Linked DNA regions of Homo sapiens. The protein of the gene in region 1 binds, or shares a complex with, the protein of each later gene. Each region holds a gene or a part of one and is shown on either strand. Other genes may lie near its edges.

Region 1 (8,034 bases):
TGCTAATTCGTATTTTTAGTAGAGATGGGGTTTCACCATGTTGGCCCAGCTGGTCTTGAACTCCTGATCTCAAGTGAGCCACCTGCCTCAGCCTCCCAAAGTACAGGGATTACAGGCATGAGCCACAGGGCCCGGCCAGTATTTTTCTTGTATAATGCTCAGAGTTTCCTTTAAATCTTTTTAAAAACTTGGCAGCCTTAGTCTTAGCTGTGCTTTGGGAAAATAAGGAGCTGCACTCAAGCTTAAGAAGATATTGCTGGAAGTGTACATTGGCACAGCCTTCAAAAAGCTTCTTGGTGCCCTCCTGTAACCCAATCGACACTGGCTAGAGAGATGAGGTCATATTGCATCAAATGGCTTCCAGTGATTCTTTGCTGTGGACAAGAAAGTTGCTCTTTTTTTTTGAGAGGGAGTTTTGATGCCTAGGCTGGAGTGCAATGGCAGTGATCTCGGCTCACTGCAACCTCTGCCTCCCAGGTTCAAGTGATTCTCCTGCCTCAGCCTCCCAAGTAGCTGGGATTACAGGCATGTGCCACCATGCCAGGCTAATTTTGTATTTTTAGTAGAGACAGGGTTTTTCCATGTTGGTCAGGCTGGTCTCGAACTCCCGACCTCAGGTGATCCACCCACCTTGGCCTCCAAAAGTGCTGGGATTACAGGCGTGAGCCACCATGCCCGGCCAAGAAGGTCACTCTTTATGCTCAACAAATGTATTGCAAATGGCTGAAAGGTAGGGAGGATCCAGATGAACAATTTCTAAATAGAAAAACTAATAGTAGCCAGACACGATGGCTCACACCTGTAATCCCAGCATTTTAGGAGGTCAAGGTAGGCAGATCACCTGAGGTCAGGCATTTGAGACCAGCCTGGGCAACATGGAGAAACCCCATCTCTACTAAAAATACAAAAATTAGCCAGGTGTGGTGGCGGGCACATGTAGTCCCAGCTACTCAGGAGGCTGAGGCAGGAGAATCGCTTGAACCCGGGAGGCAGAGGTTGCAGTGAGCTGAGCTTGTGCCACTGTACCCCAGCCTGGGCAACAGAGTGAGACTCTGTCTCAAAAAAAAAAAAAAAAAATCATAGATATCCAATTTGTTCCTTTCTCCTTTCCTAAAAGCTTTTGGTGCCCCCTCCAACCCAACAGTTCCACCCTAGAAAAACACTTGTACACATACATCAGGACATGATACAAGAATATTCAGGCTGGTCGCGGTGGCTCATGCCTATAATCTCAGCATTTTGGGAGGCCGAGGTGGGAGGACGGCGGGAGATCATGCCACTGCACTCCAGCCTGGGCAACAGAGGGAGACTCCGTCTCAAAAAAAAAAAAAAAAAAAAAGCATAATGTTGAAAACAAACAGCAGTATAATACAGCATGGAGATAACTTTATAAAATGCAAAGACAAATAAAAGTAAATATAGTGCATTGTTTAGGAGTATAAATATGATAATTATTCAAAGAAAACTAAAATGACTTTTAAAAATCATGATGGTGACTATTTTTGGGAGGAAAGCAGGTAGAAGGTGGGATCCGAGAGCAGCACAGAGTAAGTGTCAATTGTCCTAGTTAATGTTCGGCTTCTTAAATTGGGCGATATGTTCACAGGTGTTCATTATGTTCTTTTTTTTTTTTTTGGAGACGGAGTCTCACTCTGTCACCCAGGCTGGGGTGCAGTGGCGCGATCTCGGCTCACTGCAAGCTCCACCTCTCGGGTTCATGCCATTCTCCTGCCTCAGCTTCCCAAGTAGCTGGGATTACAAGTGCCTGCCACCACGCCCGGCACATTTTTTTTTTTTTTTTTTTTTTTTGTATTTTTAGTAGAGACGGGGTTTCACCGCATTAGCCAGGATGGTCTCGATCTCCTGACCTCGTGATCCGCCTGCCTCGGCCTCCCAAAGTGCTGGGATTACAGGCAGGAGCCGCTGTGTCTGGCCCATTATGTTCTTATAACTTACATTAACATATTATTTTGTACATATCAAGCTTTTTTTCCCTTTTTTTTTTTAAGAGATGAGATTTTGCTTTGTCACCCAGGCCAGAGAGTGTCGTGGTGTAGTCATAGCTCACTGCAGCTTCCAACTCCTGGGTTCAAGTGATTCTCCCACCTCTGTCTCCCAAATAATTGGAACTACAGGCACGTGCCACCATGCCTGGGTAAGTTTTTTAAAAGTGTTATTTGTAGAGACGGAGTCTGGCTGTGTTGCCTGGGCTGGTCTCAAACTCCTGGCTTCAAGTTATCCTCCTGCCTCAGCCTCCCAAAGCTCTGGCATTACAGGTGTGAGTCACTGCACCCAGACTCAGACTTTTTTTAAGGGAAAGAATGGGAGTGTAGGTGGGGAGACACACTTTGGGAGGCCAAGGTGGGAGGATCACTTGGGCCGGGGGTTCAAGACCAGCCTGGGCAACAAAGTGAGACCTCGTATTTACCAAAAATACAAAAAATTAGCTGGGCTTGGTGGTGTGGGTTCGGGCGGCTGAGGTGAGAGGATTGCATAAGCTGTAGGAGCCCGAGGCTGCAACGAGCCATGATCGCGCCATTGCGCTCTAACTTGGGCTAGACAATGAGATCCTGTCTCAAACCAAAACAAAACAAAACAGATAATTGTCAGATTGCTGTTTTGCTATTGTTGCTTTTTGTTTTTGCTTTGCTTTCCCTTGGAAGTGAAGAAGAGATTCTCATTTAAACAGTTATCTTGAAGTATCTTTGTGAGCTACGGTGCAATTATTTCCTCTGTCCTTGAGACACAGATGATTCCTGTCCAACATTCCCAAGGAACTCAGTAAGGACCAAATAGAGACTCAGGAAAGACAGTTACTGATTTTACACTGTTGCAAAACAGAGCTATGGTTTATGTTTAACAAACTGCTGGCGGGGCGTGGTGGCTCATGCCTGTAATCCCAGCACTTTGGGATGCCAAGGCGGGCGGATCACTTGAGGTCAAGAGTTTGAGACCAGCCTGGCCAACATGGTGAAACCCTGTCTCTACTAAAAATACAAAAATTAGCTGGGCATGGTGGCGCATGCCTGTAATCCTAGCTACTGGGGAGGCTGAGGCACAAGAATCGCTTGAACCTGGGAAGCAGAGGATGCAGTGAGCCAAGATCATGACACTGTACTCCAGCCTGGGTGACAGAGCGAGACTCTGTCTCAAAAAAAAAACAAAAAACAAAAAAACCAAATTGCTGTATTTTATGTTGTGAAATAGGGTCTTGCTGTGTTGTCCAGGCTGGAGTGCAGGGGTACAATCACAGCTCACTGCAGCCTTGACCTCCAGGGCTCAAGTGATCCTCCGTCCTCAGTTTTCAAGTAGCTGGGACTACAGGTATGCACCACCATATGTTGCCCAGGCTGGTCTTGAACTCCTGGAGAGAGATACATATAAACACACACACACACACACACACACACACACACCTTTTTTTTTTTTGAGACACAGTTTCACTCGTCACCCAGGCTGGAGTGCAATGGCACGATCTTGGCTCACTGCAACCTCTGCCTCCTGGGTTCAAACTATTCTCCTGCCTCGGCCTCCCAAGTAGCTGGGATTACAGGCACTGCCACCATGCCTGGCTAATTTTGTATTTTTAGTAGAGACAGGGTTTTGTCATGTTGGCCAGGCTGGTCTCAAACTTCTGGCCTCAGGTGATCCACTTGCCTCGGCCTCCCAAAGTGTTGGGATAACAGGCGTGAGCCACTGCGCCGGGCCCATACATATGCATTTTTAAAAACTTATTTATTTATTTCGAGACAGGGTCTCACTCTGTTGCCCAAGCAGGAGTGCAGTGGTGCTATCTCCCAGGCTCAAGCAATCCTCAGCCTCCCGAGTAGCTGGGACTACAGGTGTGTGCCACCACACCCAGATAATTTTTATTATTTTTATTTTTTAAATTTTTTGTAGAGATGGAGTTTCACCGTGTCACCCAGGCTGGATATTTTTGTATTTTTGATAGGCCTGTACAGTTTCCAAAGTTGCAACCTTTTCCCCTCCCTGAGAGTAGGGGCAGCCCCTGCTCTCCCTCTACATCCTCCACAGTCCCGAGGTTTTGGCCTCTGTTTCCTCCGTTTCCTATGCTTGGAACGCCAGTGGCTCTTTTGTTGGTCTGGCTGACTCCTGTTCCTCTTTTAAAAATTTAAGTTTGGCCGGGCGTGGTGGCTCATGCTTGTAATCCCAGCACTTTGGGAGGCCGAGGCGGGCGGATGACCTGAGGTCATGAGTTCGAGACCAGCCTGGCCAACACAGTGCAACCCCGTCTCCACTAAAAATACGAAAATTAGCCGGGTGTGGTGGCATGCGCCTGTAATCCCAGCTACTTGGGAGGCTGAGGCACGAGAATTGCTGGAACTGGGGAGGCGGAGGTTGCAGTGAGCTGAGATCACACCACTGCACTCCACCTGGGCAAAAGGGCAAGACTCGGCCTCAAAAGAAAATAAATAAATAAATAAATAAAGTCAAGGGGGTAACACCTCTTCGTAACTCTCCTGTTGTTTCTCATGCCAGCATCACCATAGCCTTGAGGCTCTGAGGTAGGTCACTTCGTCGAGCTCGTTTCCGTGAGGATAACGTTATCTTGGGTGTCTGTGAGACTGCTGCACTGAGTATAGAGCCCAGGCTCCTGGGTCAGCCGGGTTCGAATCCCCTTTCCTCCGTGAAGATCTGGGTCAGTCACAAGTGCTTCAGTTTCTTCGATTTGACTGAGGGAGGCTTTGACTCCAAAAAATTAACACTTGAGTGTACCCGGCCACAGCTTAGCACATCCAGGGTGTTTCCACCCTTTCTTCGGGATCCTCAGGGCTGGATGGAGCCGGTCCTTCCCGTCTCTCCTTATACTCACGCACTAGCGCTGGCTGGAACAAGTCCTCCAAGTAGAACGAGGAGCGGGTTTCAGCGGCGCTCTAGCCCGCCGAGAGCATACGCCCTCCCCACGCGGGGCCGCTGATTGGCTGAAGGTTGCGCTGGCACGCGCAACTTCCGGGACAGAGGCTGTGGCTGGAAGGAGCTGGGCATCCGGCCTGAGGCGCAGCGGTCGCGTTAGTTCGGCCCAATGGCGGCACCGCTGCTTCACACGCGTTTGCCGGGAGATGCGGCCGCTTCGTCCTCTGCAGTTAAGAAGCTGGGCGCGTCGAGGACTGGGTAAGATTCAGGCCGCTTCCTTCTGCGTATCTGGGACGAAAGCTCAGGACGGCGCTTAGAGGAGCGGATTGAAAGGATGTGGGACAAAGCTCATGGCGTGTGATAGGAGCACGGGGTGGAGGGTCATCTCACGTTCACAGAAATGAGCTCATTCCTCCTAACTGGGTAATAGACATGGGTGGGGCCTGGAAAAGTGACTATGTTCTCTGTTCTGGAGGCCCCCTTTCCCGACTGTGTCTCTTCGTGATTTCCCAGGCCTGGGTACTGCCTTCTGCGCCTTGACCCCTCTTCCTTCCCTCTTCTTCGTCCAAATTTGGAAGGGATTTCCCTGGGCTATGTGGGTTATCAGCCGAACGTCGTCACTCATGGCAAATTGAATATTACATCTTTTTTGTTTGGAATTTGTTTCGACACACGTATTTGTTTCGCAGTCTTTATTTTGCTCCACTTTTAAAATCCCTAACCCCCGTAGCACTCTTGGCGTTTAACTTTCAGAGTCATTAGGATGCTATGTTTTTTCATTAATTTACTACGTGTAAGTGAAGCAAACCTTGTAAAACAATTAGCGTAATATGATTCATAATAATTATCGAGCTCCTGCTTACTGTGTTAAACACTGGGGACAGTGGTTTATCCAAAGACACTAATGTCCCTGCTTTCTACAGAGCTTACAGCATAGGGGGGAAAGGCAGTACATAGGCCAATAAATAAACGAACACGATGATTTCAGTTATACAACAAGGTAATGGGGGAGGGAGAAGGGAGAGAAGGAGCTTTTGAGATTTCTCATTGGGAAGACATCTGTCATTTGAGCTTCCACTTGAATGAAGACAAAAATCTAGGCCGGGCGCGGTTGCTCACGCCTGTAATCCCAGCACTTTGGGAGGCCGAGGCGGGCGGATCATCTGAAGTCAGGAGTTGGAGACCAGCCTGGCCAACGTGCGAAACCTCGTCTCTACTGAAAATACAAAAATCAGCCGGGCATGGTGGCAGGTGCCTGTAATCCCAGCTACTCAGGAGGCTGAGGCAGGATAATTGCTTGAACCCGGGAGATGGAGGTTGCAGTTAAGCCAAGATCACACCACTGCACTCCAGCCTGGGCAGCAGAGCAAGACTCCATCTCAAAAAAAAAAATCCAGCCACGTAGAGATTTGGGAAAAGAGTATTTCCAATAGAGTGAACAGTAAGTGAAATGAAAAACAGCTTGGCTTGTTTGAAGAGCAGAAAAGACGTTATGGCTGTAGTAAAACAAGTTGTTGGAGATGAGGTGAGAGAGGTAGGCAGGGGCCAGATTAATGTAGGATCTTAAAGACCACACTGAGAGATTTGGATTTTTACTGTAAGTGCAGTGGGAAGACAGTTATTGGTTGCTGAGCAAAGGAAGGATTGTTGGTTAAGAGTGGAAGCAGGGAGACCAGTAAAGAGGCCTTAACAATAGTTCCACTGAATTATGTTGGTTCAATAAATGTTGGCTATTATAATTTTTATTATTTTCATGAACTTAATAGCTTGTTAATCTTGGTTCCACAGGATTTCAAATATGCGTGCATTAGAGAATGACTTTTTCAATTCTCCCCCAAGAAAAACTGTTCGGTTTGGTGGAACTGTGACAGAAGTCTTGCTGAAGTACAAAAAGGTAAGGGGAGATAATGTGTGAGGTTTGCTTTTGGTTAGGTCAGAATACAACTATTGCTGTTATACTAAAGACCAATAGAAATAGCAAGATTAATTAAGATACCAGTTGAAATCAAATATTTAATAATAGCATGATGCCGTCAGTGCAAAATTAGAGTAATAGTGTCCTTTTTTTCCCCCACCTTGGCCCATTTCACAGGTAATAATGAGAGAGTAATAATGTCTTTACTGAGGTTTCACCTCTTCAAATGCTTTATTTACGAAGCATCTTTTAACTTTAGCAAGTGCCAGAATTAAAAACAATTACACCATTTTATTTATTTATTTATTTGTGCTGGAGTCTTCCTCTGTCACCCAGGCTGGAGTGCAGTGGCGTGACCTCGGCTCACTGCATCCTCCACCTCCCAGGTTCAAGCAATTCTCCTGCCTCAGTCTTCCGAATAGGTGGGGTTACAGGCACACACCACCACACCTGGCTAATTTTTTTATTTTTTTAGTAGAGGCAGGGTTTCACCATGTTGGCCAGGCTGGTCTCGAACTCCTGACCTTGTGATCCACCCGCCTTGGCCTCCCAAAGTGCTGGGATTACAGACGTGAGCCACCATGCCTGGCCTACAGCATTTTATTTTTTGAGGAACTTACCTAAGCATTACTTTGGGACAGTAAACCAGTTCTCTGAGTAGGGATTTTTGTTTTTGTGGTAGTTTAGAAGCATTTCTACTGTATCTCAGCAGTAGAGGGAAAATGTTAAGTAACCATATGTTTATATGTAATATCCATTTGTATCCATATTTGAGTGAATACTTTTTTAGATCCTCCTGAATTAGATCATTATAGCTGGCTGTTTTTTTCCCTCATGCTTTTTGAGAATTCGCAGGAGTATCAACTATTATATTCAAATGTCAATACAGAAGTATAGCTAAATGTAGTTTATCATTTTCCTTTTTCCAAGCCCTCTGGCTGCACTAACATGAGTGTTTAAATTTTTGTAGTCATGATTTTATAATCCGCAATTGACATGTGAAAGTTAGTGTTCCTTTTATAATTTCATCTGATGTTAAAGTACGGTTAAAAGTCTTGCTGTTGATACTAAACAGGAAACAAAAGCATAACTTAATTCTTTCCCCTTCTTGTTAAGGGTGAAACAAATGACTTTGAGTTGTTGAAGAACCAGCTGTTAGATCCAGACATAAAGGTAATTAATTTTGTGTTTGATCATTAGCAAAATTATTGCCACTGTATACAGACATAGTTTGCTCTTTGGGT
Region 2 (7,274 bases), on another chromosome or scaffold:
CCACCACGCCCAGCTAATTTTTGTGTTTTTAGTAGAAATGGGGTTTCACCATGTTGGCCAGGCTGGTCTCGAACTCCTGACCTCAAGTGATCTGCCCACCTCAGCCTCCCAAAGTGTTGGAATTACAGATGTGAGCCACTGTGCCTGGCCTTCTTTTCACTATCTTGATGGTGTCCTTTGAAGCATAAAAGTGTTTCATTTGATGAGGTTTAATTTAACTGTTTCTTCTTTTGTTGCTTGTGGTTTTGGTATCACATCTAAGAAGCTGTTGCCTACTGCAAGGTCGCAAAGATTTTCACTTCTTCTGAGAGTTTTAAAGTTTTAGCTCTTATATTTTGGCCTTTGAGTTAATTTTTATGAAGTAGGTAGGGGCCCAACTTTATTATTTTGTATGTGGATATCCAGTTGTAGCATTTATTGAAAAGTCTATTATTTTCCCACTGAATTGTCTTGGCACCCTTACTGAAAATTAGTTAGCAGCCGGGAGCAGTGGCCATGCCTGTAATCCTAGCACTTTGGGAGGCCAAGACAGGTAGATCGCATGAGCCCTCAGGAGTTCGAAACCAACCTGGGCAACATGGTGAAACTGCATCTCTACAAAAAATACAAAAATTAGCTGAGTGTGGTAGCGTGTGCCTGTAGTCCTGGCTACTTGAGTGGCTGAGGTGAGAGGTTCACTTGAGCCCAGGAGGTAGAGTGAGGCTTCAGTAAGCTGAAATCATGCCACTGCAGTCCAGCCTGGGAGACAAAGTAAGGCCCTGTCTTACACACACACAAAAGAAAATTAGTTACCTATAAATGTAGAGGTTTACTTCTGGACTCTAAATCTTCCATTGATCTACATGTGTCTCTCTTTCTGCCCATATCACACAGTCTTGATTACTACAGCTTTGTAGTACTTTTTTTTTTTTTTTTTTTGAGACTGAGTCTTGCTGTGTTGCCCATGCTGGAGTATAGTGGCAGGATCTCAGCTCACTGCAATCTGTGTCTTCCAGGTTCAAGCGATTCCTGTGCCTCAGCCTCCTGAGTAGCTGGGACTACAGGCGTGTGCCACCACGCCCAGCTAATTTTTTCGTACTTTTAGTAGAGACGGGGTTTCACCTTGTTGGTCAGGCTGGTCTCGAACTCCTGACCTCAGGTGATCCACCCACATCGGCCTCCCAAAGTGCTGGGATTATAGGTGTGAGCCACCATGCCTGGCCATAGTCATAGAGTACATTATCCAACTTTGTCCTTTTTAAAGATTCTTTGTTCTTCTTTGGTCCCTTGCATTTTCGTATGAATTATAGAATCAGCCTGTCAACTTATGCAAAAAGGCCGAGTTTTTGATAGGAATTACATGTATCTGTAGATCAATTTGACAATAGTAAGTCTTTCAACTGAACACAGAGTGTCTTTTCATTCATTTAGGTCTTAAAAAATTTTTTTTCAACAGTATCACTTTTCAGAGTAAAATTTTGCATCTCTTTTGTAAAATTTCTACCCATTTTGTTACTTTTGATGCTTTTGCAAATGGCATTGTTTTCCTAATTTTATCTTCTGCTTGTTCATTGCAAGTGTATAGACATACAGTTGATTATTGTGTATTGATCTTGTACTCTGCAACCTTTGTGAACTCATTTATTAGTTCAGTAAATTTTTAGTGGGTTCTTAGGATTTTTCTGTGTACAAGACCATGTCATCTGCAAATAGAGATAGTTTTACTTCTTCCTTTCCAATCTTGGATATCTTTTTGTTATGTTCTTGCTTAATTGTCCTGGCTGGAACCACCAATATAATGAACAAAAGTAGTGAGAAAAGACATTTTTGTCTTATTACTGATTTTAGGGGGAAAGCATGCAGTCTTTTATCATTCAGTTCAATGTTAGCTATGAGTTTTTCATAGATGCCCTTTATCAGATTGAGGAAGTTCCTTCTGTTCCTACATTGTTGAGTCTTTTTATCATGAAGGGTTATTGTGTTTTTTCAGATGCTTTTTCTGTGTCTATTGTGATGATCATGAGGTTTTGGTCCTGTATTCTTTTGATTTGGTTTAGATCAATAGATCTCTATTTTATTATTTGCATTAATTGATTTTCAGATGTTAAGCCAACCTTGCATTCCTAGTATAGATCCGACTTGGACATGATGTATAATGCTTTTTATATGTTGTTGGACTCAGTTTGCTAGTATTTTTGTTAAAGATTTTTGCAGCTATATTCTTAAGAGATACTGATCTGTAGTTTTATTGTGTTGTCTTTGGTTTTGGTATCATGGTAATACTGGCTTAGAATAAGTTAGGAAGTATTCTTTTCTGTCCTTTTTTTGGGAGAATTTGTGAAGAATTAGTATTTTCCTTTAAATATTTGTTGGAATTTACTGTTGTAGCTATCAGCAACTGAGTTTTTCTCGCAGATAGTTTTTTAAATTACTAATTTAACAGAGGTCCTCAATGTTTAATGAATGTTAAAAGATCTTGTATCTTTGGGCAGATAAGGATGATTATGCTTACAATGCAGTAGCCCAGGATGTGTTCAACCACAGCTGGAAGACATCTGCAAATATTTCTGCATTGATTAAAATTCCTGGAGTTTGGGACCCTTTTGTGAAGAGTTATGTAGAAGTAAGTAGAATTTTCATTAAATTTATTGGTTTTATTTTGTCAAAAGCCTATACAAAGACTGCATGCCTAATCTTTATTGATCAGAAAGAAACTAATGGAAAAAATTATTTAAAAGAAAGCAAAAATACGGTGTCTCTTTTTTGGTCTGAATTTGTTTATTTTCACCACTGTATAACCCGTCGTGGCCAAGTATCTATAAAATAAATAGCAGTATAGTTGTAAATGTTAATTCAATCTTATTCTTGTTGAGCTTAAAAGAAATGCAGTAAGATACCTTATGATTTGGTGGGATATAGAAGGAAAGAGGACAAAAATCTGAAAAAATGGGTCATACTATATGAGGTGAAGAATGATGGCTTTTTGGAAGTTCATAAGAATGTCCTGTCATCCCAGAGTCATTGTAAAAGGACTGAGGGCCTTGGTGCTAGGCACTAGGAATAAATCTTCAAAATAATTTGCTTTGTGAAAGTTAATGAGTGGCAAGTTGATAATTGTGTTGTCAGAAGATAATCTCCAAAATCATAATCTGGAGATTCCTGTGTAAGGATGGGAACAGGATGAAAGGAATTACAATTCTCATGCACTCCTTTTGTGGCTGCAGTGATGTAGGGCACTGAGGTTAGCTGCATCACATTTTCGAGCATTAGTGTTCCCTGCTTTGAGGACTCTTATTTTTTATAGGAAGAGAATTTATGTTGAGGTTGCTGCATTGTTTATTAGTAGTAACAAAATACAGGGAAAAAATGGGAACCCTGTCAGTTTTGTGATTTTTAAAAAATACCCATCAGTAAACTTATGCTGTGTATTATTTTTCGTATAGCTGTCTTACAGAATTCAGCTAAGATATTATGATTTATTTTATATAGATGCTGGAATTCTATGGGGATCGAGATGGAGCCCAAGAGGTACTCACCAATTATGCATATGATGAAAAGTTTCCATCAAATCCAAATGCCCATATCTACTTATACAACTTTCTAAAGAGACAGAAGGCACCAAGATCAAAATTGATAAGTGTGCTTAAGGTATAGAATTTTTATCTCGATGTTTGACCAGGGTTGGGAATCTACATTAAAACATTCTTAGGCCATTGCTTTCTAACTTTTATAGCATCTACAGAAAATTTCAATAATGTACAGTACACTGAGATAAACAGAGAAAGTTGGCTCCAGCTGCCATCTCCATGTATGTATCATCCACACTATCCCCTGCTGCCCGGATGAGACTGAGGAGAGAGGATCAGAAGTCTTGTGCAACCCTGGTTGGAATACTCTGCACTGATATTTTTTGAAAATCAACTTTATTGAAATTTAGTTTTCAGAGAGTAAACACACTTATTTTAAGTATGTGCTTGGATGCGTTACATTCATGAACCACCATGGTAATCATGATATAGAACATTTCTGTCGCCCCCAGAATGCCTTTCATTTCCCTTTGCAGCCTGTCTGTCCCCACAACCATGGCCCCAGACAATCACTGATCTGCTTATTGTCACTATAGATTAATTTTTATCTCTTCTAGAATTTCATGTAAATGGACTCTTATGTAGTCATTTTAATCTGGCTTCTCTTGCTCAGCGTAACATATTTGAGATTCACCCATGTTATTGTGTATATTAGTAATTTCCTTATTACTGCTGAATAGTATTTCATTTTTATACATTCACTTCTTGATGGACATTTGGGTAATTTTTACTTTTTGGCTATTGTGAATGATGCTGCTGAGAACATTCATGTACAAGATTCTGTATACACATATATTTTCATGTTTCTTGGGTAGCTACCTGAGAGAGGAGTTGCTGCCTAAGAGTAGTAAGGAAAGTATATGCTTAACTTCCTAAGAAACTGCCCAGCTGTTTTTTGAAGTGACTGTACCATCGACATTCACACAGCAATATGAAAATTCAGTTTCTCCACATCTGTGCCAACACTTGGTATTGGAGGTCTTTTGAATAATAGCCTCTTGTGGGTGTCCCATGTGGCATTAAATTGTATTTCCCTAATGACTAGTGATGTTGAGCATCTTTTAGTATGTCTATTGGCCATCCTGTATCTTCTTTTGTCATGTGTCCAACTACTTAGTCTATTTTTGGGGGGATCAATTGTCTTCTTACTGATTTGGAAATTTTTATATAATCTGGATATAAGTCCTTTGTGAAGAATATTAATTATGAATATTTTCTCTCTGACTGTGCCTTGCCTTTTGGTTTCCTTAATAGTATCTTTCAAAGAGTAGAAACTTCTAGTTTTGATGTTCAGTTTGTACATTTTTTTTTCTTTTATGGTTAGTGCTTTTTGTCTAAGAAATATTTGCCTATCTCAAGATAATGAAGAGTTCTTTTTTTTTTTTTTTTCTAGATGTGTTGTATAGTTTTATGTTTAGGTCATGGTAGATTTTTAGCTATTTTTTTGTGGGTAGTGTGTGGCAAAGGTCAAGGTTCATTTTTTCCCATGTGGTTGTTCCAGCATTATATTGAAGACTCTCCTTTCTCCATTTAGTACATTTGGAACTTTGTTGAAAACCAGTAGGCTGTATATGAAGTCTGTTGTGTTCTAGTGATGTATATTTCCACCTCAATAGATGAAAATTCAGTTTCTCCACATCCTTGCCAATACTTCATATTGTAGGTCTTCTAAATGTGAGTTATTGCCATTCTAGTGGGTGTGTAGTAATATCTCATGTGGCCTTAATATGGTTACTGTAGCTTTGTAGCAAGTCTTGGAATCATATCATGAAAGTCATACAAATTTGTTCTTTTTCAAAATTGCTTTTGGCTTTTCTAGGTTCTTTAACTTTCCATGTATATTGTATAATCAACTTACCTGTTGCTACAAAAAGGTCTTGCTGAGATTTTGAATCTATAGATCAGTTTGAGAGAATTGACATCTCAACTGTATTGAGGTTTCCAAAGTGTAAACATGGCATGTCTCTCCATTTATTTAGGTTTTTAATTTCTCTCTGAACTGTTTTGTAGTTTTTAGTGTATGTATTTTGTTAAATTTGTCCCTAAGTGTTTCATGGGGTTGTTGTATATAATATTGCTTAACATTTTAAATTGTGGGAAAATATATACAAAAATAAATGTTACCATTTTGATCATTTTTAAAGCATATAATTTAGTGGCATTAAGTACATTCATTCACAGTTTTGTGCAACCACCATCACTGTCTATTTCCAGAATGTTTTCGTTATCCGAAGTAGAAACTATTCATTAAACAATAACTCCTCATTGCCTGCTCCTCCCAGCCCCTGAAAACCTCTGTGCTAATTTCCATCTTCGTGAATTTGATTATTCTAGGTACCTCATATAAGTGGAATCATATAACATTTGTCCTTTTGTGTCTTGCTAATTTCACTTAGCATAATGTTTTCAAGGTTCATCCATGTTGTAGCATATATCAGAACGGCCATTTTTATTTAAGGCTGAATAATATTCCATTTTATGTACCTACAACATTTTGCTTATCCATTTCTTGGTAGACATTTGGGTTGTGTTTGTTGTTTGGCTATTATAAGTAATGCTGCTCTAAAGATTAGTGTACAGGTATTTGTTGGAGTTCGCTGCTTTCACTTCTTTTGGGTGTATACTCAGGAGTGAAATTGCTGGATTATATGGTAATTCTTTTAACTTTTTGAGGAATTGTCAAACTGTTTTCTACAGCAACTACACTATTTTACATTCCTACCAACAATTCCACATCCTGGCTAACAGCTTCTATTCTCCATCCCCTTTTTTGATCATTGATATCCTAGTGCAGGGATCCCCAACCCCTGGGTCATGGACCGGTATCTGTTTGTGACCTGTTAGGAACCAGGCCACACAGCAGAAAGTGAGCATCAGGCAAGTGAGCATTACCTGAGGTCTGCCTCCTGTCAGATCAGCGGTGGCATTAGATTCTCATAGGAGCCCGGACCGTATTGTGAACTGCACATGGGAGGGATCTAGGTTGTGTGCTCCTTATGAGAATTTAATGCCTAATGATCTGTAACTGTCTCCCATCACCCCCAGATGGGATCATCCAGTTGCAGGAAAACAAGGGCTCTCACTGATTCTACTTATGGTGAGTTGTATAATTATTTCATTATATATTATAATGTAATAATATAAAGTGCACAATAAATGTAAAGTGCATAAATAATGCAATCCCGAAACCATCCTTGACCCTCACACTGGTCTGTGGAAAAATTGTCTTCCACGAAACCAGGACCTGGTGCCAAAAAAGTTGGGGACCGCTATCCTAGTGGGTGTGAAGTGGTATCTGTGTCTCAGTGTGGTTTTGGTTTGCATTTCCCTAATGTCTAGTGATGTGTATCTTTTCATGTGCTTATTGGCCATTTGTTTATCATCTTTGGCAAATGTCTATTCAAGTCCTCTGCCCTTTTATGAATTGGGTTGTTTGGTTTTTGTTGTTAAATTATAGGAATTCTTTGTATATTTTGTGTTCAGTTTTTAATCATGGCATTTTAGAGGTGAAAGACAAAGGTCCTTTCAACCTAAAGAAATGATAGAGAAAAGTTCTTATCTCTGTTTTCTTTTAAAAGGCCAATTATCTTTATACTTTCGTGATCAAAATTGGCATTATCAAACCTTCAGATGTGGAAACTAAGTTTTATAAATTTTTCAACAGGCTTTGTTTTACTAAACAATCCTTTGCTGTTGTTGTTGTTTGAA

The links.
Region 2: RRN3 (region 1) and TAF1A share a complex: the UniProt entries of both Homo sapiens proteins name them as parts of the pol I pre-initiation complex.

What each region holds. Positions count from the first base shown.
Region 1 is NC_000016.10:15,091,244-15,099,277, reverse strand, and holds the start of RRN3 (RNA polymerase I-specific transcription initiation factor RRN3), read left to right. Parts: upstream 1-5,005; 5' UTR 5,006-5,044; coding exon 5,045-5,133; intron 5,134-6,663; coding exon 6,664-6,769; intron 6,770-7,906; coding exon 7,907-7,963; intron 7,964-8,034. UniProt on the Homo sapiens protein: Required for efficient transcription initiation by RNA polymerase I (Pol I). Required for the formation of the competent pre-initiation complex (PIC).
Region 2 is NC_000001.11:222,565,863-222,573,136, reverse strand, and holds part of TAF1A (TATA box-binding protein-associated factor RNA polymerase I subunit A), read left to right. Parts: intron 1-2,471; coding exon 2,472-2,602; intron 2,603-3,468; coding exon 3,469-3,627; intron 3,628-3,712; coding exon of another isoform or gene 3,713-3,754; exon of another isoform or gene 3,755-5,712; intron 5,713-6,611; coding exon of another isoform or gene 6,612-6,663; intron 6,664-7,274. UniProt on the Homo sapiens protein: Component of the transcription factor SL1/TIF-IB complex, which is involved in the assembly of the PIC (pre-initiation complex) during RNA polymerase I-dependent transcription.